Regions from separate parts of the Homo sapiens genome. Here regions 1, 2 and 4 are each reported to be linked to region 3. The links are microRNA targets in miRTarBase. Many come from high-throughput screens and were not tested one by one. Region 3 holds a microRNA gene; each other region holds the end of a gene's coding sequence. Distances are between the middles of the regions.
What was found. Region 3 holds the annotated microRNA hsa-miR-339-5p (UCCCUGUCCUCCAGGAGCUCACG, at 2,053-2,075, shown strand). A microRNA usually pairs through its seed, bases 2 to 8, with sites in the 3' UTR of a target mRNA and lowers its output. Matches are read on the target gene's strand: a 7mer-m8 pairs with bases 2 to 8, a 7mer-A1 pairs with bases 2 to 7 and ends in A, and an 8mer does both.

Region 1: miRTarBase lists FBXO31 as a target of hsa-miR-339-5p. Seed matches in the 3' UTR shown: 7mer-m8 at 4,116-4,122 and 7mer-m8 at 1,271-1,277.
Region 2: the mRNA of LBX2 is a reported target of hsa-miR-339-5p. Seed matches in the 3' UTR shown: 7mer-m8 at 2,105-2,111.
Region 4: the mRNA of C1GALT1 is a reported target of hsa-miR-339-5p. Seed matches in the 3' UTR shown: 7mer-m8 at 2,930-2,936.

What each region holds. Positions count from the first base shown.
Region 1 is chr16:87,326,377-87,331,986 of GRCh38, forward strand. It overlaps FBXO31 (F-box protein 31), which reads right to left. Exons shown (of 9, transcript NM_024735.5): 9 at 611-5,134. The coding sequence ends at 4,912. Among named protein-coding and RNA genes, the nearest start is that of C16orf95-DT, 12 kb to the left of the region's middle. RefSeq lists an enhancer at 4,871-5,372.
Region 2 is chr2:74,494,190-74,499,859 of GRCh38, reverse strand. It overlaps LBX2 (ladybird homeobox 2), which reads left to right and starts at 257. Exons shown (of 2, transcript NM_001282430.2): 1 at 257-527; 2 at 1,542-2,343. The coding sequence starts at 323. The coding sequence ends at 1,933. It overlaps TTC31 (tetratricopeptide repeat domain 31), which reads right to left. Exons shown (of 13, transcript NM_022492.6): 13 at 5,301-5,670. RefSeq lists an enhancer at 1,911-1,960.
Region 3 is chr7:1,019,326-1,025,064 of GRCh38, reverse strand. MIR339 (microRNA 339) reads left to right here and starts at 2,039; the gene lies at 2,039-2,132. All of the region lies in intron 2 of CHLSN (cholesin), which reads left to right. RefSeq lists an enhancer at 1,371-1,928.
Region 4 is chr7:7,242,435-7,248,173 of GRCh38, forward strand. It overlaps C1GALT1 (core 1 synthase, glycoprotein-N-acetylgalactosamine 3-beta-galactosyltransferase 1), which reads left to right. Exons shown (of 4, transcript NM_020156.5): 4 at 1,090-5,739. The coding sequence ends at 1,293. Among named protein-coding and RNA genes, the nearest start is that of LINC03016, 9.8 kb to the right of the region's middle.

The DNA.
Region 1 (5,610 bases), not on the chromosome of region 3:
TGCGTTCCTGTTCCCCTGCATCACTGCCAACACTTGGAAAATCACACTTGCCAATTTCTGCCAATCGAGGGTGTACTTTGAGTGCATTACCATGGAAAACATCCTGTTTCTACAATTCCAAGCTAACAGCATTAATTAGCAGCAGTGACTCACGGGGAGGCTGGGATGAGAACAGGGGGTACTTTCACTGTCTATGCTAAAGAACTGTTTACAAGAACATATGAGTTTAGTAAACACAAAAGAAAGATCAATGAGATCCTCAGTTCATCTGCCTGGCTCTCAGCACATTCCCTCCCATATCTGTCCTCGTTGCAGATAATGCAACTCACTTTGGCTTAAATCTAAGAAAATCTACTGGGGCCCGAACTCCTCTGGGTCCCTGGGTAGGGACTCGAGACACCTCTGATGCCAGGTCAAAGGGAAGGACACAGGGACAACCACTGTCTGGGCTCCAAGGCATCCCTTCAATGCTCCCTTCTGTCAACGCGGGAAATCTGACACTTCCTCAAGAAGCTGGGAAGTCTGGGTTCCCAGGCCGACAGCTCGCATGGCTTAAGGCTCTCGCCTCCGTCCAACTCATATTCCCAAAGAAATCACAAAACACACAACAAGCCTTCAAAAACGGATTTACTTGAAACTGTGAGGAGAAACAAGTGCACGGGTGCAGGTGGCGGCTGCCAGGATTGCTCCGGTCCTACCTAGTGGGTGCCTACCCAGGCAGGGCACAGCTCCTGCTGCAAGGTCACCTTACCAGGGGGTGCAGAGGTGCTCATGATCAGATGGCACAGCGCTTTCCTAATGCAGGCAGGCTACATGGCCCCCAGAAACAACCAAATGCAGAATCAGGCCAAAACCCACACAGCCCTGACCCCCTCGTGCTCTGGCTGGTCTCCCGGTCAGCAGCCCCTGAGGGCCGGCAGGCAGGCCACTGAGCTGTGGGTGACACAGGGTAGTCCACGGTTTGCACAGTCTCATTCCCATTCAAAGACAGGCCCCAAGGCTGGGGCGCAGGGGCTCACGCCTGTAATCCCAGCACTTTGGGAGGCCGAGGCGGGTGGATCACCTGAGATCGGGAGTTCGAGACCAACCTGAGCAACATGGCAAAACTCCATCTCTACAAAAACAAGTTAGCCAAGCATGGTGGTGGTGGGTGCCTGTGGTCCCAGCTACTTGGGAGGCTAAGGCGGGCAGACAGCTTGAGCCTAGTAGGTTGAGGCCTCAGGGAGCCATGATCGCCGCTCTGCACTCCAGCCCAGGTGACAGAGCAAGACCCTGTCTCAAAAAACAACAAAAAAAGTACCAGCCGCATGGAGACTATCTGCTGCTTGCATCTTCTCTAAATAATTACGGGGATGAGGAGTCCAGTGATGTTCCTGGTCTCTCCCCAGAAGTACAGACAGGTTGGGCCACGTTAACACTGGACTTGATCATGATTCCAGGAGTTTTATTCTCAGGACAGGTGATGGTTCTATGAGCACATTCCCGTAAGTGTTCTTAAAAGTTACACCACGAAGGCAGCAACCAGAATAGAAACATCCTAAAAGAGCCTAGCTGCTTTCTGCAGCACCTTGGACGGTGGACCACAGCTCAGCATCTCCTGTTCGCACCCAAGACCCCACGGCCATGAGGACAACACGAGCTCAGAAGATGCATGTGGGCAGGCGTTCTGAAGTAACAAAGGGGCTGAGGAGTTTCTGCTGCTGTCCGTGACTGCCCACGAGCACTGAAAATGGCCTAACCGTGTGCAGGTGAGAAAGCCTGGGGGTGAACACGCCCTGAGGAGTCAGGGAAGCCAGAGCCAGCGGCTGAAGGGCCCTTGCGTGCGGCTGCAGCACAACTGCAGGTTCTCAGAGAAAAATCTCCAGCTCAGACCCGGTTCTGCACAAAGCTCAGAATGGAGCGGCCAGCAGGGCATGTGGCTAGAGGAAGGACATGGCCACCCACCCCTCCCTCCTCGTGTGCCAGGTGGGCTTGCTAGGGGCACAGGTGCCCAGTGTCAGGGCAGGGATGCCACAGAGCCGCAGGCAGACTGAAGGGGCCCAGGGCATGGTCAGGAACGAAGAAGGAGGGAGCCTGAGGCTCTCCCACCACCAGGCCTGCAAAGCCACTCACACTCAGCAGTGGACACTTGAGGTCACGGCCCAGGTGGGCTGAGGGACCCCAATACCACCTGCCTTGAATCTCAGCCTGCAGAAGTCGTTTGCAACTTCCTCATGCAAATGAACATTCAGTGCCGGCACAGAAAAGCCTCCAATGACCTCTCTGAAATCTTCAATCACATCATTTCCAAACAAGTGACAAAGAACACGTTCAGGTGTGCAGAGCTGCACTGCAGGCAGCCCCACTCCAGAGAGCAGACTTGATCCTGCCCCAGAGTGAGACAGCGACAGAAAGGCATCCGTGGTGCAAAAGATGGAGAGTCCCAACCTCCCAACTCCACCTGCCACCTTCCCCAATCAAGCCTAATGCGCTTGGCTGTCCTGAACTGGGTTACTCAGCCTCCTCCTTGGAAACGGTTTTATCCAACTCTCAGCTGCCCTTAGGCCTCTGATGACGACATCAGCCCTTCCGAGTTCTCACCTGCAGGAAATGGGCCACCTGCAGGATCCCCTGAGAGGGTGGATGCCCTCCCCCGGAAGGGAAGCTGCTGTTTTGAGGCGCGCAGATTCAGTGCCTGTCCCTACAGAACCGGAGCCAAGAACTGGCTAAGGACACATCGGAGCGGAAAAAACAAGACCTGTAGTCACGACTGAAGGGACTGGCTGTGCGGCCAAAAAGGCCTCCCTTTCCTGGCTGTGTGGCTCTGGCCCTGCCTGGCATCACTGCAGGTCACCACCATGGAGAGACCCCCGCCCCCAACATACACACCAGAACCAGGAGCCACATGAACTGACCAACAGCCCATGGCTGAGACATGATGGGTGGAAGCTATTTCTATACCCAAACACTGGAAGCGTAATTGAGATCTGAGATTCCTTTAATCAGAAGCACGTGCGTCCCACAGTGTGCTCTTCAAGCCCCAAAGGGCACGCCTCTAGGACTGCGTCCCTTAGAGCGAGGCTCGGGCTCTTGGTAAAAAAGCATTTGCTTGATTTTATTTAAACAATGGTGAATCTTCAAGGTGCCAGTCTACATGCCCAACAGTCCTCCAGGCTTCAAGGCCACAGTCACCGTCACTCAGAGACTGCCTCATTTGGCAAGAGAGAAAAACAGTGACCACCACAGAGGGCAGGGAGTGACAAAGCTTGTAGGCTAATGCTGCAAAAGCCGCTAGAAACTGGGGCCACACACAAGAGCCAGCAGGTGCGCCTCGGGGTCTGCGTGGCTCCCGCTGCTGCCGCCCTGGAAGGGCGCTTTCTCCACTGGCTTTTCTCGTGAGTCTTTCTCCCAGGCCGGCCAGATTACCATTTAGGAACCTTTGCCAATTCTCTGACTCTGGGAAGCAAAGTAAGCATTTGCCAAATGCACTGAGGCTGGGCAATGGGAATTCTTATGTTCTTTAAAGGCCAGTCAAGGAGAAATTCATCAGGAAAACATTTCCCAGGACATCCTCAGGTTGGTCTCCACACCAAGGCACACAGACTGTCACCTTCCCGAGGTCCCTCACCAGCAGGACGTGTCCAGGGTGCCCAGCACAAGGACTTGGAGCAGCCCAGACACAAGGACAAGCGGCAGAGAGGGAAGGCTCGCTGGGGACGCCCACTCGGGCACGGAGCTGGCTGTGGGCTGGGGGAAGGGCCAGCTCTGGACACCGTGCTCTCTGTTCTTCAGGAGATGCCAACCTCAGCCAAGACCTCAGATGGGGTCCCCACACGCAGGTGTTAACACAACATGGGGCACACAGCAGTGGAGGCATCAGTCCATGGGGTCTCCAGGCTGGAGGGTCCCACTTTCCAAAGTGTGTCCCCAGATGCAGGTGTGGCTTTTCTAGAAAGCTGTCCCCTCACCTGCAAAGGGGTTTCCTCGTCATCTCATATGGGCACTCCTGGCACCTGTGTGGACCACTCACTGCTTCAGACACACGGGCCTGGAGCCTTGCGTTCTGGAGACAGTGGCCGGCAGCTTGGTTTTGACGCCGTGTGCGTGCAGGGAGGAAGGCATGGACAAAACAAACGCCCTGTCTGGAACAGGCCGTCGAGGACAGTCAAGTGGCTGGAACGATGGCCTTGGCTCCAAAGCTGGAGGGGCTGGGGCAGGTGCATGGGCTGGGCTGTGCATTCAGGTGACATTCCCTAGTGACTCAGGTCACTAAACCCACTCCACAGGTGGGGAAGCTGAGATCAGAGGTGAAATGCTTCTGTCCAAACTCCAAGCAAGCCGGTAGAGAAATGGGGATTCACTCCAGAGTCCCGGCCCCAAGCCTGAGATCCTACCAACTTCCCGAGCTTGCTCTGCGTACTGTGCCCATCACACCTGCGCTGCCTGAGCTGTTCGCCTCTTCCTGACCCCCTCCCAGAGGCCACTGTTGCCTGGCTTCCCCCAAAAGGAGTGGGGTGGAGCACATGCGTCTCACACACGACCCAGTCTATCACTCTATCCGCTCACAGGAAGAGCACCAGTCAGGAGGGTCCTGCTTCCCGAGAAAACCACCAGCCAGCCCAGGGTGCGGGAACCCCACCGCTTCAATTCTCACGCGGTCCCACGGCTGTCCCCTACATCTGCTGTATTCAGGCTCGTTCTCTCTGTTTTTGGTAAGACATGCTCAGCTTCTTCCATCATGGCACTGACAAATATGCAGGTCTATGTCACACTCTCTACATAAAGTGCTGGGGGGTGGCTGGACTGGGCCCCCCGACGAGGTGTGCGTTCTGGTCAAAAGGCCGGATTTCCAAAGTGCATGCTGCTTCTATTCACAGGTCAGAGTTCAGAGCCCCAGAGCCACCCGGGATGTGGCGGCAAGGATGTGGCCGGTCAGGAGGTGAGGGACTGAATGTTCTTGAGCATCTCATCGAAGGCCTGTGGGGACGGCGCATCTGCGTTCCGGAAGGTGGCCTGGACCCGGCTGTACAGGCTGAAGGATTTCAGCTCCAGCCAGACGAACCCGAAGCGGTCCTCATCGAAGAGGATGAAGACCCCGGGGGTGCGTTCAGGGCTGGTGAAGCCGTGGCCCGCGATGAGGCCTGTGCCATAAAAACTGAGCAGAAACAAGAGGGAAACTGTGAGCTGGGGGAGGGCTGAGTCAAATGCACGCCACGTACAGCATTCTGCGACCCCGCTCTGTGCCGCAAGAGCCACATCCACTGTTCATCAGCCAGAAGCTGACTCCCAGAGCCAGCCTGTCTCTGCAGGGGCAGCTGGGGGTGTGGGCTGAGCCTGTCTCTGAAGGGGTAGCTAAGGGCGCAGGCCGAGCCCACCTGATGATGGACGCAGAGGCCAGAGCTCGGGGCTGCTCGGGGGATGGGCGCTGACTCGCAGCACCCGTGAGGGATTCACCCACTGACTGCACAATGCTGAAACACTGAACTAAAACGAGGTCTCTGCAGGCCCAGAGAGCTCTGTTCCAAAACACACATTTCATAAAGGAGGCCCAATGTGAAAAAAAATCTTAATGTCTGGGAGTTATGTCCCCATACAATTAGCTCTAATACAGGCAGCCTGCAGCTGACATTA
Region 2 (5,670 bases), not on the chromosome of region 3:
CCCGGCCTGACTGTGCACGGTGCAGCGCCCCGCAGCGCGGAGCAGCCCCGTGGCCCTGCTCTGGTGGGTAGTTTGGTCGGCTTCTGCTCTCCGCGCCTGCCCCAGCCTGTAGAAATACCCTCCCCGGACATCTAGGAGCTCCAGATCCACCGCGGCCCGGGGTGGAGAGGTGGGGGCGCAGGAGGAGGGGCACACGGGACTCGGGCCCAGAGCCGGGGGCGGGTCCGAGGCTGGGGGCCCGGATTGGGAGCCGAGCACTGGGGCCCAGGCGTTTGCGGAGCCTAGCGCAACGGACAGCCGGACCGCCCCAGCCCGGCCGACCATGAACTCGGGACGCGAGCCCCGAACACCCCGGACACTCTTAAGCATCGCAGACATCCTAGCCCCGCGCATGGTCCCCCGAGCACCCTCTGCGCCGCAGCTTCCAGAGTCGGGTCCGGGTCCAACGTCGCCGCTGTGCGCGCTGGAGGAGCTGACTAGTAAAACTTTCCGCGGACTTGACGCGCGCGCTCTGCAGCCCTCTGAAGGTATAGAGCCGGCAAGGTCGCGGACTCTGACTTAGCCTTTTCCTCACCTCTCTCCTCCTGGTTCCCCGTCTCAAACCTTTGTCCCAGCCCAGGCCACCCACCCTAATCCTCCCCTGTCCTCAGCCCACGTGCCAGGACTCGCACCTGCGACTTCTCACCTCTCCTCCGTTAGTCCCTAGGTTCCGCGGCGGCTCCGGAAGGCCGCCAGTGCCAAGGGAAAAGGGCAGACCGTCGCCAACTGAGCGACCTGTTGCTCTGTTCCTTGTAGGCGGGGCAATCGCGATAGAGAAAGGCAGGAGAGAAAGAGACAAAAGGCTTCAGCCGCAGGCGGTAAACGAGTGAGCCTGCAAAGGCGGCACAGAAAGCGCTGGAGAGTCGAGTCTTTCCGGGTGACCAAGCTCCGCTCCAAGCCACTCTCTTCTCGAGGGGAGTCAAGGAGCAGAAAGCCCTTGGCGCAGCACTGGGCGCGGGATTCCGCACTCTGCCTTTTCTCGCTCTCTGTACCTCATTATCTCCCTTTGGGGCCGGAGGAGCGGGCTCTGGTGTCACTAAGGAACTGTAAACCGAATGCCCGACCCGATCCATGGAAGGGCATGATCTAAGTCCTGTTACCACCACCACGCTGGGTCGGCTGCCCTGACTCTTACTCGCCTCTGATGTCACCCTCAACTTATAGCCTGCTCAGCCTGAGGCTCCTAAAAGCCTCAAAGGCTCCACCCCAGAAGGTTTGACCCTGCACCTCTGAATCATCCCTCCCTTCCTTCACTTCCTTGCCCCTACAATATGCCCTCAGCCTGCTGCCTTTCGCACCCCTGTGGCCAGCCCGCTTTGCGCCCCATATCCCCACCTGGGCCTGACTCCCGATAAGGGATCACAGTTCTGGTCTCCGTCCGCCTTCCTGGCTCTCCCTCTACTTCCCCCACCGCCACCGGCCCGACCCCACCCCCAACTTTTCTTTCCAGGCCCAGCCTGATTCCCGGAGGCTGGAAACTGACCCCCTCCCTATCCCTACAGGGCGGGCAGGTCCGGACGCGCTGGGCCCTGGTCCCTTCGGCCGCAAACGGCGCAAGTCACGCACTGCGTTCACCGCGCAACAGGTGCTGGAGCTGGAGCGGCGCTTCGTCTTCCAGAAGTACCTGGCGCCGTCCGAGCGAGACGGGCTAGCTACGCGACTCGGCCTGGCCAACGCGCAGGTGGTCACTTGGTTCCAGAACCGGCGAGCCAAGCTCAAGCGCGATGTGGAGGAGATGCGCGCCGACGTCGCCTCGCTACGCGCGTTGTCCCCGGAAGTCCTGTGCAGCTTAGCACTGCCCGAAGGCGCTCCAGATCCCGGCCTCTGCCTCGGCCCTGCCGGCCCTGACTCCCGGCCCCACCTGTCAGACGAGGAGATACAGGTGGACGATTGAAGACAAAGCCGCCGCCAATCCTGGGCTCTGGGGCCCTGGACTCCTCACCTCGCGCTCTGCCTCTGGCCAGAGTTCCAGGGTGGAGGAAGGAGGTCCACTTGGGCCTCTTCCGGCCCACAGTCCAGACGCTCACCTTTCCCGGTTTTTTTGTAAGTTTGTTTTGTTGTCTGAGACAGGGCCTCGCTCTGTCGCCCAGGCTGGAGTGCCGTGGAGCGATCACCGCTCACTGCAGTCGCGACCTCCTGGGCTCAAGCGATCCTCCTGCCTCAACCTCCCGACTAGCTGGCATTACAGGCGTGCAGCACCACCCCAGGCTAATTTAAAAAACTTTTTTTTTTAGAGAGGAGGTCCCGCTATGTTGTCCAGGCTACTTTCCCAATATTTGAGAATAAAGTCGAGACTCTGCCGCACCATGCCTCTATCCAGACGCCCGCCAGAAGCAAGAAACAGTAAAATCTGTAAAGTGCTATGGGGAGTCCGCACTTGGCACTGTGCCAGGGCTTTCAATGCAATGTTTCCTTTAGCCCTTATAGCAACCCTTTAAGGTAGGTAATAATTACACCATTTTTACAAAGTCAGAACCCTGAGGTCAGGTTTTGGACCCAGCATCCAGCCAGCCTTCAGAGCTGATGCTTATCAGTCTACCAAGGGGAAGTCACCGGGCCTGAGTGAAAGACAGTGGGGCCTTGGCCCACCTACTGTCTGCCTGGGAGACCTTGATTCTAATCCCTAGGTTGGCCCCAGAGTGATGACATTGTTTCCCCACCTGTTAATGGGTTCCTGACCCTTTCCCCATCCTGCCAAAAGAACCCTCCGCTGGGACACAGGCAAATAGACGGGTGCCCAGAGAGGCCACACCCCTACCTGGAAGACCTCTGCCAGGCCCCTGGGCCAGAAATTTTACCACTAGGATGGTGGCAGCAGCCAGAGGGTGGAAAGGCTTGGCCTGCTGGGGCGAAGCTTGGAGTAGTGGCCTTGCCTGGTAGGGATTCCAGCCTAACTCAGCCAGTGGACATTTCTGACATTCATTTATTCCACTGGTGATAATCACCCTCCTGCAGTGTGAGGGGAGAGGAGGGGGAACGCTCAGTAGTTGCAGGCCTTCCCCTCCCCAGTGGTCCCAGCCAATCTTCAGATCAAGCTCAGTTGTCTTTCCTGCTTCCCTTCTCTCCTGTCAGTCCTCTGGCTCTCTTCAGACTTTCTCCTGCCTCTGCCTAAGTGTGACAACCCTACTTTCAAGGAAGTTCCATGGGTTCAACGGGGGTCAGCTAGGGCCTTAGTTGCAGGTGGAGGGCCCAAGAGAGAATATTCCTTGGAAAGTGAACAAGGCTGGAAGGCAGAAGGGAATCTGGCATTTTCAGACAGTACCACTTATTAAGCAGTTCCAAGTGCTTTGCAGGTATTAATCCTTAAAATAACCCAACAGGACAGAGACTTTTCTTTCCATTTTAAGGATGAGACTGAATTACAGAACCCTGAGGAAACTTGGCCAGGTCACAGTTTGTAAGTGGTGGCACAGGGACTGAGCTGTTTGCTTGTCCGACTCAGGAGCCCATGCTCTTGGTCTCTATAAAGGTGACTGAGCCTAAAGGAAAGAAGCAAAGGATTTACAGAGAAAGGGGAGGAGAAAGGGCCACAGGTAGGGACTTAGGCATTGTACTTTAGAGCATGGTCCCTGGAGGTTTTAGAGAAGAGAGACAAGAGACCATTGTTTAGGGTAGGCCAATCTGGCTGTGGGCGCAGGTTGGATCAGAGACTGGTAGAGACCTGAAAAAGGGAGTATATATCTGGCCACTGCAAAAGGTAACAGCAGAGAGAACTCAGGGCCAGACTTGAGGTGGGGCTGGGAGGTGGTCACAGAAGAGGAATCTGCGATTGCCCCAGGGATCAAGGATTGCATGAGTCAATGACAACCTAGCAAATGTGGGCAACTGGAAGAAAAATGGCAACATGGAAACAGACAGTGACCACTGGTGTGGAGCTAAGAATCTGTCAGCCATTATGCATATGCAAAAAAATAATTCTTTGCAACTGCATTGCCCCTTCAGTACTCCCTTCTAAATACTGCCTCTCTGGAACATTTCCAGTAGGGTGATCAACTCTTTCCCATCTGCCCAGCATTTTCCAAGTTTTGGCATTGAAAGTCCCTCACTCCAGAACATCCCTCAGTTCCAGGAAAACCAGGATGGTTGGTCACTCTACTTTCCAGTCCTGGGAACTCAGAACTCAGGCTGTTGGGTCAGACCCCTATTAATTAGGAGGGTGAAAATGGGGCAAAGTGTCAGGAGTCACGTGACTCTTGGAGAAGCTACAAGTCCAGGGCAGGCTAAGGTACTGGGGAGGGAACATTTACTTGAGAAGCTAGAACAAGGAGCCAGCTCAGCTGGAAGGCAAAAATACCATTGAGTAGTGGTGGGTGGCCTTTGAGAGGTCAGGAGCCCTACAGACATCCCAAAAGCATGCAGGTCCCTGCTCAAAAACAGGAAAGCCAGATGGGCAGGCCTCTTATGGAACCACTGTAATATAATCACCCCTTGGACAAACACAACCACCTATGCCCATCCTGCTCCCCAACCAGGGGTGAGCAAAGAACTCTCAGGGCAAATCCTTCTAGTTAGGAAGGTAGGGTCCAGTCAAATTAACTGGCTGAGTCATAACCTCTCTCCCCATTGAGGTTTCCCAAATTCTAGCCCAGCTAGCACTGCCACCTCTTATACTGAAGACTTGGACAACAAAACTCAAACCTGTCCCACCAAAATGGCCTCTGGATGGAGGTCTGCTCCGCTAAGCCCCGCCCTTGAACAGTGTGTATCAGGATCACTTGGTAGGTTTATTGAAACACAAATTGCTGGGCCCTGCTCCCATGGTTTCTGATGTAGGTCACTGCAGGGGGCCTGAGAAATTGCATTTCTTTTTTTTTTTTTTTTGAGAGTTTTGCTCGTTACCCAGGCTGGAATGCAATGGCGCAATCTCGGCTCACCGCAACCTCCGCCTCCCAGGTTCAAGCGATTCTCCTGCCTCAGCCTCCCGAGTAGCTGGGATTACAGGCATGTGACACCACACCTGGCTAATTTTGTATTTTTAGCAGAGGAGGCGTTTCTCCATGTTGGTCAGGCTGGTCTCAAACTCCTGACCTCAGGTGATCCACCCATCTTGGCCTCCCAAAGTGCTGAGATTACAGGCGTGAGCCACCGTGCCCAGCCTGAGAAATTGCATTTCTAGTAAGTTCCTGGATGATGCTGATGCTGCTAGCCTAGAAAGCACACTTTGAGAATCCAGTCCCAGAACTCTGGATTTTGTGAATTTCAGCACCAATTCACCCACACTCCTCTCTTCCTATTGTGGGAAGCATGACTATGTAGGACAGTTGCAGACAAAAAGTGGTTTATTTAGCACCCACTATGTACCAGGCACTTGGGAGGTATTTTCTCACACTTTCGCTTTCCATCCTCACAATATCCCTTATGAGGTAGGGACTACCCTCATTTTTACAGGTGAGGGAACTGAGGCTTAGATGTTGACAGACCCATCCAAGGTGACCCAGCTGGTAATGGTAGACTTCATCCTGCTACACAGTATTTAAGGGGCCTAAACCATAAACAATTTTTAAAAATTTGGGAAAGTCACACATAAAGGAGATGTTTCAATACCTTCTCTCTCCAGGTATGAACAGTATTGAGCAAGACCCACAGGGCAGCAATAATCATTTATCCTGATGAAAGGTTCCTCTGTGAAAG
Region 3 (5,739 bases):
TGGGGCGAAGGGGGCGCATTTGCCGCATGTCCCCATTGGCAGCATCTCCACGCCTTCCCTTGTGACACCTCCAACCAGAATAGAGCAGGTATGTGGGAGCCCGCACCTGCTCCCCCAGCGCCCCGGGGTCGTCTTCTGCCTGCTCCTTCTGTCCTCCACACTGAAGAGTGTGCTCCAGCTGGGGATGGGCATGTGTGACGCTGGGGAATGGATACCTGTGAAATGGTGGAGTGTGCATCAAGTCTAAATAGCCGCTCGCAGGATCTGGGGGCTTTTTGTTTTCAGAAACCTGATCTGATCTTTATAAAAAGTGCTCCCCCACTCAGTCAGCCTGGGTGTCCCTCCCGTCCAGGCCAGCAGCGCTGTCTGGCTCGGCAAGGAGGGGCTGAAACTGGAGAGCCCCTGGGAAGGCTCTTGTGGGCCAGGTGGCAGCGGGGAGGGTGGCTCTTGTTCCCCGCCCTCATCCTAGCGTTCAGCAGACTGCCCCACACCACAGGTTTCCATTTTCACCCTTGGGTTAAGAGAAAAGCAGAAATAAAAAGTTTCTAATGTTGCTTGCGAAATTCAGCACTGGCCACCAAAGGCACCTGGGGCTTCTGCGTCTCTCTTGTCCCCTGGGGCTCCTGCGTCTCTCCTGTCCCATGGGTCCGTTTCTTGCTGTTTATTGCAACCCGCCTACATCGTTGGTGTGTGCAGCTGAACTCAGGCTGTTTAGGAAGCCCACGGGCAGGGCTCTGTGGGGCCCATTCCTGGTCCCACGTCTCTGGCAAGGGCTCCTCTTGAGCTGAGGCTTCTGAGCTCCTGCAGGCGGGAGTAGGGAGGCAGGTCCCACTGTCAGCCAAGCTGCAGGGTTTTTAGGAAGAAAGTGGGGGCTGTGCACCGTGGGCTCACACCTATAATCCCAGCACTTTGAGGCTGGCCGGAAGGATCGCTGTGGCCCAGGAGTTTGAAAACTCATGCCTATAATCCCAGCACTTTGGGAGGCCGGCAAGGAGGATCACTTTAGCTCAGGAGTGTGAGAGCAGCCTTGGTCCTATCTCTATAAAAAATTTAAAAACTGGCCAGGCATGGTGGCACATGCCTATAGTCCTGGTTGCTTGGGAGGCTGAGGTGGGAGGATTGCTTGAGCCCAGGAGGTCGAGGCTGCAGTAAACTGTGATGGTGCCGCTGCAGTCCAGCCTGGGCCACAGAGCAAGACCGTGTATCAAAAGGAAAGGGCTGCTGTGGAAGGGCCTCCAGTCCCCTGGCCTGGGCTGCAGGGGCCGCTGCTCCAGCCCTGCCTTCTACATGTGCCGAGATGTGAGCAGTCACCCCTGGAGATCCTCACCCCTTCTCTGTAGAACGAGGAGTTGGGCTGCCAGGGATTGGGGTCTGGGCGCGTTGCTGGTGTGTGTGTGTGTGTGTGTGTGTGTGTGTGTGTGTGTGTGTGTGTGTGTGTGTTTCCTGGGAGGAGGCCCCCACAGTCTTCGTCATGTTCTCCAGGGCCCAGTGGGAAGGAGTTGGAAGTTGGATGGAGAGAAATGTGGAGTAGGGCAGGAACCTCCTTCCTAGGAAGGAGCCTGCGGGGGACCCTGCAAGGGGTCCCAGGTTCCCAGGAGGCCTCGGGTGTGCTGTCAGAGGGGCGCTGGGGCTGGGAGTCTGTCCATGTCTTCAGCCTGGGTCTCGTGAGTTCAGGGAGTTTGAACCTGGGTGGAGAATGAGCCCCTGTGCGTCTTCCCTAACCTCCAGCTGACACGAGCTTCCGCAGACCCCGCGGTGGCGGGTGTGGGCGCTCCCCGTGCCATCTGTTGGGGACACCTCACACATCACTTGCGCTCAGCCCGTGTCGCGGCTGCAGGAGCCACCAGACCTTGTAAATACTCGGATGCCCACATCTGCTCGTCTGTGTCTCCCTGTGGCTGTGCATCAGACCTCACGCGTTTAAAACGTCCTTCTGAGAAGGGGCCACAGGCAGGTGCCACCCATTGCCACGGCACCATGGCAGGAAGCGTCCCATGCTCTGCAGGGGTGGCAGGAAGCGTCCTGTGCTCCGCAGGGGCGGGGCGGCCGCTCTCCCTGTCCTCCAGGAGCTCACGTGTGCCTGCCTGTGAGCGCCTCGACGACAGAGCCGGCGCCTGCCCCAGTGTCTGCGCCGGGACCATGGAGTGGCCAGCTCGCCGCGGAGACGTCGCCGCGCTTTGTAGCAGCCCCTGGACTCGTATGCGTGGGTCTTCTGATGCAGTGTGTTTTATTCGGTATCAACATGGAAGGGGGAGAGCATGGGATGTTCCACTGGTGTCCTAGGGAGGAAGTAACTGGGGAGGGAGGACGGTTGGGGGGGATTCACCTTTAAAGAATTTGAGAGCTTGTTTATTTTGCAGAATAAGAGTAAATTAATCCCCTGTGTGTTTCTGATCATTAAGAAGACCACATCGATGCTGTTGGTTGTGGGACTGTCATTTCAGAGTCCGGATCCGAATGTGGTCCTGGCTACTCTGCGAGGGTTGCCGTGGGAGGAGGTGGTGGAGGGCACGTGGGCGTCCCGTGTTCCCTCACGACGGCCGTCACCTGCGATTGCGTTAAAATAAAAGGCTTAATTTAAAAAACTCTTGTTTCTCAGAAAAAGCAGTTTACTACTGTGAGTTAACGCCGTGGGATTCTAATAATTGAGGTGACAAATCTGATTAAGGTTTTCTTTAAATTGGAACAGAATCCGTACGGGTGCCCCATGAGAGGGCTGTGGGACGTGGGACCAGGCTCCTGACCTTGGAACCCCTGGGTGGGGTCTGAGGCGATGCAGGAGAAAGAGGAGCTCGTGGTCCAGGAGGCGCCCGTGGGTGGGGACATGCCTCCCCGCAGGCCTGCGTCTGTCCTCGTGGGACGGGGCCAGGCTTCTGGTCCTTCCCTCCTGAGCTGCCGTCACCACCGTGGCTCACGAACAGTGCAGCGGGGCTCCTGGTGGTCTGCGAGCAGACTCCGGTGGACTCAGGGTTGGTTGCCCTGTCCAGGGGGCCTCGAGTGCTCCAGGACATGGCCTGTCCGATGTGGCCCAGGCGCCACGCCTGTGGGCCGTCATCGCTGTCACCTGGGTGTGCCGAGGGACTTGGGCTTTCCTGCCACCCCCGCGGAGGATCGAACCTTGTGACCCAGGCCGAGGGAGCTGCCCTGGGTGCCCCTCAGGCTCCTGCTCCCCAGGACTCAGTTTATACCCCAAAACCCAGCCTCGCCCCGCGGAAGGGCGCGCATCCCAGTGTGTTTCCCTGTGCCAGGCACAGTTCTCGCTGGGCGGGTATTTTTGCCGCATGCTTTCTTTTAGTGCGCTGTTTGTGTATGGTTGTTGGTGAGCTGTGGTTTCTGTCTGGTGACAAGTAGGGAGGGGTTAGGGGGGTGGTGTCCTGCCTCCAGCCGACCTGCCGGGGTTCCCAGAGGGCACTGCGGTGGCAGCAAAGCCAGTCACACTGGGGCTGGCAGATTGTCCCTCTCCCATCCAACAGCATGGGGAAATGATTGATGACTGACAGCTGCTGAAGCCCTACTCCTGTGCGGTGGATGGACAGTGCTCCCTGGGGTCCCAGCTCCAACTACTGGCATCTTGTCAAAGCAGCAGCCCAGGTGGCCACCACTGCCGATCAGACTTAATGGATGAAGACAGGAAGGCTGGGCAGAGCCCTTCAGCTTCCGACTCTGGTTCAGTCACTGAAATCCGCAATATCATCTCTGTCAAGGTCAGGTCCTACTGCCACGATGAAAAGGCTTCTGGGGAAGAAGAAAGAAACCTGCCCCATGGGTGCCAGCCTGGAGGTCCACACTAGAGGTCCCTGCTGGGAGATCCTCAGCCTGGAGGTTCCCAACCTGGGGGTCCGTGCTGGGAGGTCCCCAGTCTGGAGGTCCCCAACCTGGAGGTTCTTAACCTGGTGATCCCCAACCAGAAGGTCCCTACTGGAATGTCTCCAGCCTGGAGGTTCCCAACCTGGAGTTCCCTGCTGCGAGGTCCCCAGCCTGGAGGTGCCTGCCTGAAGGTCCCCAGCCTGGAGGCCCTGCTGGGAGGTCCCCAACCTGGAGGTACCTGCCCGAAGGTCCCCAGCCTGGAGGTACCTGCCTGAAGGTCCCCAGCCTGGAGGCCCTGCTGGGAGGTCCCATCTGAAGGCTCCACCTGGTGGTGTCTTTCGTAACCCCAGTCCCCAGCTCTGCTGTATCAGGACGTTACAAACGGCCTGATTGCCCCCAAGAAAGTCGAGGGGTCCTGACCCCTGCACTCCTCCGTTTCACACAGCCTGGGGAGCCCAGAGGAGCAGGACATCCAAGGCCCAGGCCGTCTGCAGGGGTGGTCAGCAGACGGCAGTGATGGGCTGGTGTCTGCCCCTGAGATCAGAGGTGAACAGGAATGGGAGCCTCTGTTTCCTGCAGGTCCTCCCTGCTCGGGAGGTGGGTTCGGTAAGGGCTGGGTTTACTGTCATTCATTTCCTTACATCATCTTGGTCTTAGCTGTGTGAGACTAGCTGTCCCTGCAGTCTGGGAGGGGTTGGCCTGTTCCCCAACCCGCTACAGCCCCCTTGTGTGTGGTATCCGCCAGACATATCTCGATAGTGGGGGCTCCAGGTGGGGGCGCCGAGGGGCCCTTGGGTGGAGACGCAAGATGGGGCAGCGGCTGGCGAGAAGCGAACCTAGGGGGCTCCTCTCTGGGGCCCAGGAAGAGTTCTTGGAGAGGCTGTCCTGGCTCTGACAGGAGAGCGGGCCTCCCCTTTGGTGGGCGTGCTGGGCGGGGCCCCAGGCTGCAGGAGGACTGTGATGGGAGCAAGGGGTGCCCCCTCTCTCAGGGAGCCCCAGGAGGGCAGAGGCTGCAGCGCGTGTTCACAGGACGGGAGCATGAGGGAATGCACTCCGCGGCGTGGGAAGAAACAGTCGTGGGGACCAGGGCATCGCACGCGGGGCCTGCCGCATCCATGCACTGCTGGGCCTGGTGCCCGTGTTCCCGCAGAGCAGCAGACACCACCACTCCGCCGGCCCTTGGATCTCTCCTCAGTGGGAAGAGAGGCTGGGGACGGGCCGGCCACCTGCCGCCTCGCTGGACTTCTGCCCTGGGATTCCTGAGACGAGAGCCGAGCGTCCTAAGCTGCCCTCGTCCAGGTGCCCCGTGGCCTCCCTCGGGAAACGCACTGTAGCTTGGCCTCCGGGCCGCGGTCAGTGCCTGCGGGCCTCTGGGTCCAGGCTGTGGGAACTGTCCACTTCCTGGGAGGGCAGGAGTGAGAGACCTGAGTGGGTGACCCCAGGCAGCCCCAGCCCCCCACACTCCATCAGGAGAAGAGGGGTCAGGGCCACAGCCAACCAGTCTCCGCTTCCTGCTTGCTTCCCACCGCCTCTGCCCATCTGGAAGCCCTGGCTGCAGTGGGGGCCCTCCTCGTGGTGATGGGCCTGGAGGTTCTTGGCGGCCACTGGAGCTTCCTGCAGCCACTAGGCCTGCGCAGCCTCCCCTCTGCCCACAGGGCAGCCCCACGGCCACCTCCGCTCTGTGGTTTGCCTTCTTGGACTCAGGGCTTCACTGTTTTGAAAAGCCCGGGTGCTGCAGTGAGGACCCCGCTCCGCATTTCTGCCGGGAGCTGTGAGCAGCCAGGCCAGCCTCCTCACGGTGCCAGGAAGCCTCTCCTTCTGGCCCAGAGCAGCAGCTGCCCCTTCCAGCATTGACCGTGGGTGATCAACAACCTGGCATGGGGGCAGGATTTTCCCTATAGAACCATTGAACAACACGGACCTGTCAGCTCA
Region 4 (5,739 bases), 6.2 Mb from region 3:
GGACAGTTTGATAATTTTTACACACTGTAAGCTACATACTTCCAAACATAAATTATTAGATTTATTAAATATTCAGTCAATATGAATCTTCTCTTGGAACTTGCCAGACTATCTCCCTCATTCTTTACAAAGATGTCAGATGGAGCCTGAAGTTTTGTTGGAGTCACCTGGATGACACCAACATTCTCCAGATACCAATTCTGACTCTAGGTTGACTGCTTAATTCATCTCTTTTTCTGTCTTCTTAATTTTCTTGCTTTCTTGTTCGTTGTATTGTTGTTGTTTTATTTTAAACTTTGTTCTCATACCAACCCTATTAGGAATTTATGAGAATTACATAACTGGACAAAGGTTTAAATCTGACCTACCTTAGGGCCACCTGATATGATTTTTCAGTCAATAATAGCTAACATTTATTGGGCATTTATTTTAAGCAAAGGGTAATTTACACACATTGTCTCCTTTAAATAACCACCTTTTACAAATGTGGAAATTAAAGCTTATAGAGATTAAATAACTTACTCAAGGTCGTATACTAGCCCACAAAATTTGGGTTCAAACCCAAGTCTAGGTTGAGAGCTTTGTCTCAAATACTGTACTGTTTGGGTTGATACATATATAGATGAAGTGTATTGGGTTGTAGACACCTAATGGGCAAGGCTTTGTAGTCATTGAATGCCCTAGAGGTATGTTTCCGAGTATGAGCCACACAAAAAATTACAGTGAGAAAATGAGGAAGAGAAAGCAGATGTTGGAGAAGGAGATTTCTCCTTGTATAGCTGCTCCTTTGATTTGAAGAAATCTCAGTAATTTTATCCGCTAAAGAGTGTGAGAGAATATTGTTTCATTTAAAAATACTTTCCACAGTTTCACTTGGTTTCACCAATTTCAATTGGTTTTAAATCATTAGGATGTCTAAGTAAACTATTGATTTCTTCCACAGGTCTAGTACATTAGGTTCCTCTGCTTTACCTTGCCATCTTTAATGTTTGTATTCTTTTAAAATTAGCTGGTCCTTTATAAGTATGTAAATATTGTAGCTAGCAATGTGCTGTTTATTAACAATACCTGTTTCCACTACTTTTTTAGGGTCCTGGTTGCTGCTCTGATCTTGCAGTTTCTTTTCACTATGTTGATTCTACAACCATGTATGAGTTAGAATACCTCGTTTATCATCTTCGTCCATATGGTTATTTATACAGATATCAACCTACCTTACCTGAACGTATACTAAAGGAAATTAGTCAAGCAAACAAAAATGAAGATACAAAAGTGAAGTTAGGAAATCCTTGAAAGAAAATCATGAATGAACAAAGGTAATATGTCTAGCACTGCACTGAAAAAGGACTTCTGCATTTCTGACATAGAACACTGGAATCCCAGTGAGGAATTCTAAGTGAACATTCCTTATAGAAACCTTTCACATGAATGACTATAAACTGAAGCTTTAAATGAGCTGTGAAGTGTGTTAAAATGTGTTTTGATACAGTAATATATAAATATGTCTATATATATGAGGAACTTGTGTTTTTTAAATGGTGGCCAGGTAGAGGAACTAGAAAAGAGATTTTGTTGCCTGTTTTCTGACCATCTGTGTTATTGTCACTGAGAAACTAAAATAGTAAATTTACTAAAACTACACTGCACCATGTTAGTAATAAACAGATCTGCCTTAAAGAAAAGAAAATTTTAGAAAGAAATATTGTTGCTCAGTGTTGTTAATATAGCTCAAGAATTGAGTTTATATTTGCAGTATGCTATAAATGATACCCCCCTACCACACCCACACACACAGTTTTTGTCTAATGAAAATGTTGCTGTGATTATTTATAATTGGTAGTATTTCTTCCAGAAGAAGCTAAAATAAGACTGGCACTTACCCTGAAGTGCATTAATAAAACCACACTTTAAAATTATCATGGGCCTTGACTATATTATATACTTGATTCTAATTAGTCATCTTTTACGCAATCTCTGTTGTCTCTTTTCTAAATGTGTTTAGCCACTCTTGAATACCATTCTCCACTATTAACATTAATTTACTCAAACCGTTCATAGCATTCTGTAAACATGTATTTTACATATTTGTTCCCAAATTTGCCCATTGTTCATTATGGGTAACTAATAATAAATTTAATGCTGTTTCAGGATGCTTTTCTTATAACAGTGCCACTCTCAGGAATTACTAAGTGACATTTTAAATTGATATTTTAAACTCTTTCCAACTACATAGTTATGGTTTATTTCATTCTCATCCTGTTGGGATGAGAACTTGTTTGTGCCTTTCATAACTTGTTTAAAGCAGAGTTTTAAAATTAGTTTATAGGATCTGAGGTGGCTATTAGTTACAGTGGCAAGATTATTTAGAAAGCAAGATTTTGATGAGAATTAAAAACAATAGAAAATGTAGAGTGCTTAAACAAAAATGTTATATTTTGAAAGAGTAGATACTTAATTTATAAATAACAGTCTGAAGGTTGGTGCTATTTTGGGATAATTGTTTTGCTAATGGATAATTCTAACAATGCAGAATACCTAGTCAAGACTGTCATCAAAAACATTCACAAATGTTTCATTCTATTTTTAGTGACTCTGTTTAAAGAGTTTCTGAAAGGAAAGAAATTTTTTATTTTTATTATCTTTAGCAGTACTGAGTGTCATAGCAGAATATTTTACAGACTTTCTATGAGATTATTTTTATGGTACAAAGTATTTACATTTCCCTCATGTTTATCATTATGCCAATTTTACATGGCAGTCATGCCACTGACTCTGCTATTTAGCTAAGTAATTTCTTTTTTCGGAGACTGTCTCACTCTGTCTCCCAGGCTGGACTGCAGTGGTGCGATTCTCCTGCCTCAGCCTCCCGAGTAGCGGGGATTACAGGCACGCGCTGCCACGCCCCGCCAGTTTTCATATTTTTAGTAGAGACAGGGTTTTGCCGTGTTGGCCAGGCTGGTCTTGAACTCCTGACCTCAGGTGATCCACCCACCTTGGCATCCCAAAGTGCTGGGATTACGAGCGTGAGTCACAGCACCCGGCTAAGTAATTTCTATTTATTGTGCCAAAACATGTCAAAATCATGACCTCTTTGAATGGTATATTTGAGAGGATGTTCATTTCATTGGTTAACCATGGACTACTCTGTCCACGTAGTGAAAACATGCACCAGTTTTTACCTATTATCATGGTAGTATCATCTGCCAAAATTTCAAGGCATTCATTTTATTCTTTGAACAACTCTTCACCATGGTGTGGACATGAATTTTCATATGTGTTACTTGACTAGAAGTATAAATGGTTTACTATAGATATCCAAAAACCTTGAGATTTGCTCATAGGAAATGAATATTGTGATGAATCCTGGGCTCTAGAGTCAGACTTGCTTGGGTTTAAATTCTTGCTCTAACACTTACTGTTTTTGTAACCTTGAGCAATTTTAATCTCTCTGTGTCTCAATTTCCTCATCTTTTAATTAGGGATGATAATACTACCTACCTCACAGGATTTTTATGAGGATTAAATAAATGTAAGGTTTTTAGAACATTGATAGGGAGCAATAAATAGAAGATTGTATTATTATTCTGTTACCTTGGAGTGTAAGTACTGCATTTAAGTGAATGAAAAATTTGCTTTGACCAGATACTGAAGGAAATAAGTAATAGCTAGTATTTATCCAATGCCAACTGTATGCTAGGTACTGTGCTTAGATAATCTGTGTATAATAGTGTTAATCCTCAAAATTTGGGTGTTATACCCCTATTATAGATAAGGAAACTGAGGCTCAGAGACAAAGTAACTTTGTCACTGTCACAAAGCTAGTAAGTAACAGAGGTAGGATTTATATTCAAAACCCTGTGTGTTCATTGGAACCGTATCAGGCTTGGGGCTATTCATGTAGCATTATTTCCATTTTTATGTATATGATATATGACGTCTGATGCATTGGCCAGTAATAGTCAAATTAACCCAGCCAAATTGTCACAGTGATTCTTAAACTGTGGTTCTCACACTTGCCCAGGATGTTGTTAAATGCAGATCTGAAGACCCCAATCTCAGAAATTCAAATTTAAGCATGGGGCCCAAGAGTATGCATTCTTACCAGATACCTTGGGCAGTGACTGTCAAAAGTCTGGTCCCAACAAACAGCATTAACGTCACCTGGGAACTTGTTGGAAATGCAGCCTCTCTCGGGGCCTCATCTCAGATCAGATCTACTAAATCAGATACTCTAGGGGCAGGGGCAGGGGCAGGGGCTAGCAGTTGTGTTTAAGCAAACTCTGCAGGTGTCTTTCTTATCCTAGTTTGAGAACCAATACCCAACAACCTACGTGATTTTGGTGCAAGTAGTGTTTGAAACACACTGAAGATTACTGCCCAATTACTAAGACATTTTTCAAAAAGCATGTTTTAAATCAGTGTAGTCCAGGATCACACTATATTAAATATAAAGATAACTTAAAGGATCATTGGATCATTCATTTTGGCCAAATTTTTAGCTTCTCCAAAGTGACTAACATCAGGGCCTACAATAAAATCTGTAATTCTCCAAGTTTAGTAATTTTATATTGAGGCAGGAAGGGCTCATTAAGTACTAATAAGTACATAATTTATTAAAAACATACATAAGTGTCATCAAAAAGGTCCACAATTGTTAGTAAAAAAAATTAAATTGAAGTAGTAAATGCTGTTTTATAACATACATTTTTCTGCTAATTCATTCTGTTTTGTGTGACCTAATAAAGCAAAAGAAAAATAAAAAAGCAATTCTCCAAGTACTTCATAGAGCACATAAAACCAGATTTCATGATGATGATGTATTCACTATCTTTTAGATTAAGATCTTTGTTATTTGGTAAATGATTTCAGTATGGTTTTAAAACATAAGGCTTTTGATGTCTTATGTTCTCTAATAATGGTATGCTTGTATTTTCTAGTGGGAAGTTCATAGATAAAGCAGATTTTTGTCCCAGTTTGCTTTCAAATATAAATTTCAGAGGGCTTTTTCTTACTGTAATGAGGTATGAAAATAAATCATTGATCAGCTCTTAATATTTTTTGAATACAGAATTGGATTTGAGCAGTAAATTTGCTAACTGGTTATTTTCACAATTTTCTTGAATATTAATTTTTCACTTCTTTGAGACTGTCAAACTATAGTTACTACCAGGTTGATGCACTGTACTTGAAAGAATCCCTTGATTAAATTACATCTAGCATTTTATTTGCCATTTCAATTTTCAGTTCATTAGACTATAATTCTTTGACAGTTTCTGCCTGGTGTTTATTGCCCTTCTTTGTTTGCTTTATTACTAACTTCCATTTTCTAGTTACTCTTAAATGCTGCCTTCACAAGGTTAATTTGGCTGTTAATAGTGATTAGAATTTTTATCACTTAATTGATAATTTTAAGCCTACTAACTAGGGTTCCCTATGAAATTGAAAGTAAAAGTCTAAGAATAATGCCTGCTGGCTCTCGAGATACTTGCCCTACTTAAAAATCTATAATTTAAAATTAATTCTATGTCTACAATTATTAAAGGAAGTAAAGTTATTTGGGTTCTTCCACTCACCCTTTTCTCAAAAACAACAACAAAAAACAAAACTCATTTTATTTTTCTACTTTATAGTAGGCCTGACAGAAACATAGTGAAGCAATCTGGGAGGCAACCTGTGGTAGATTTTATGCTAAATGTTAATGTAACCTCTGTTGATTTTTTAAAAATGTGTTTATATATA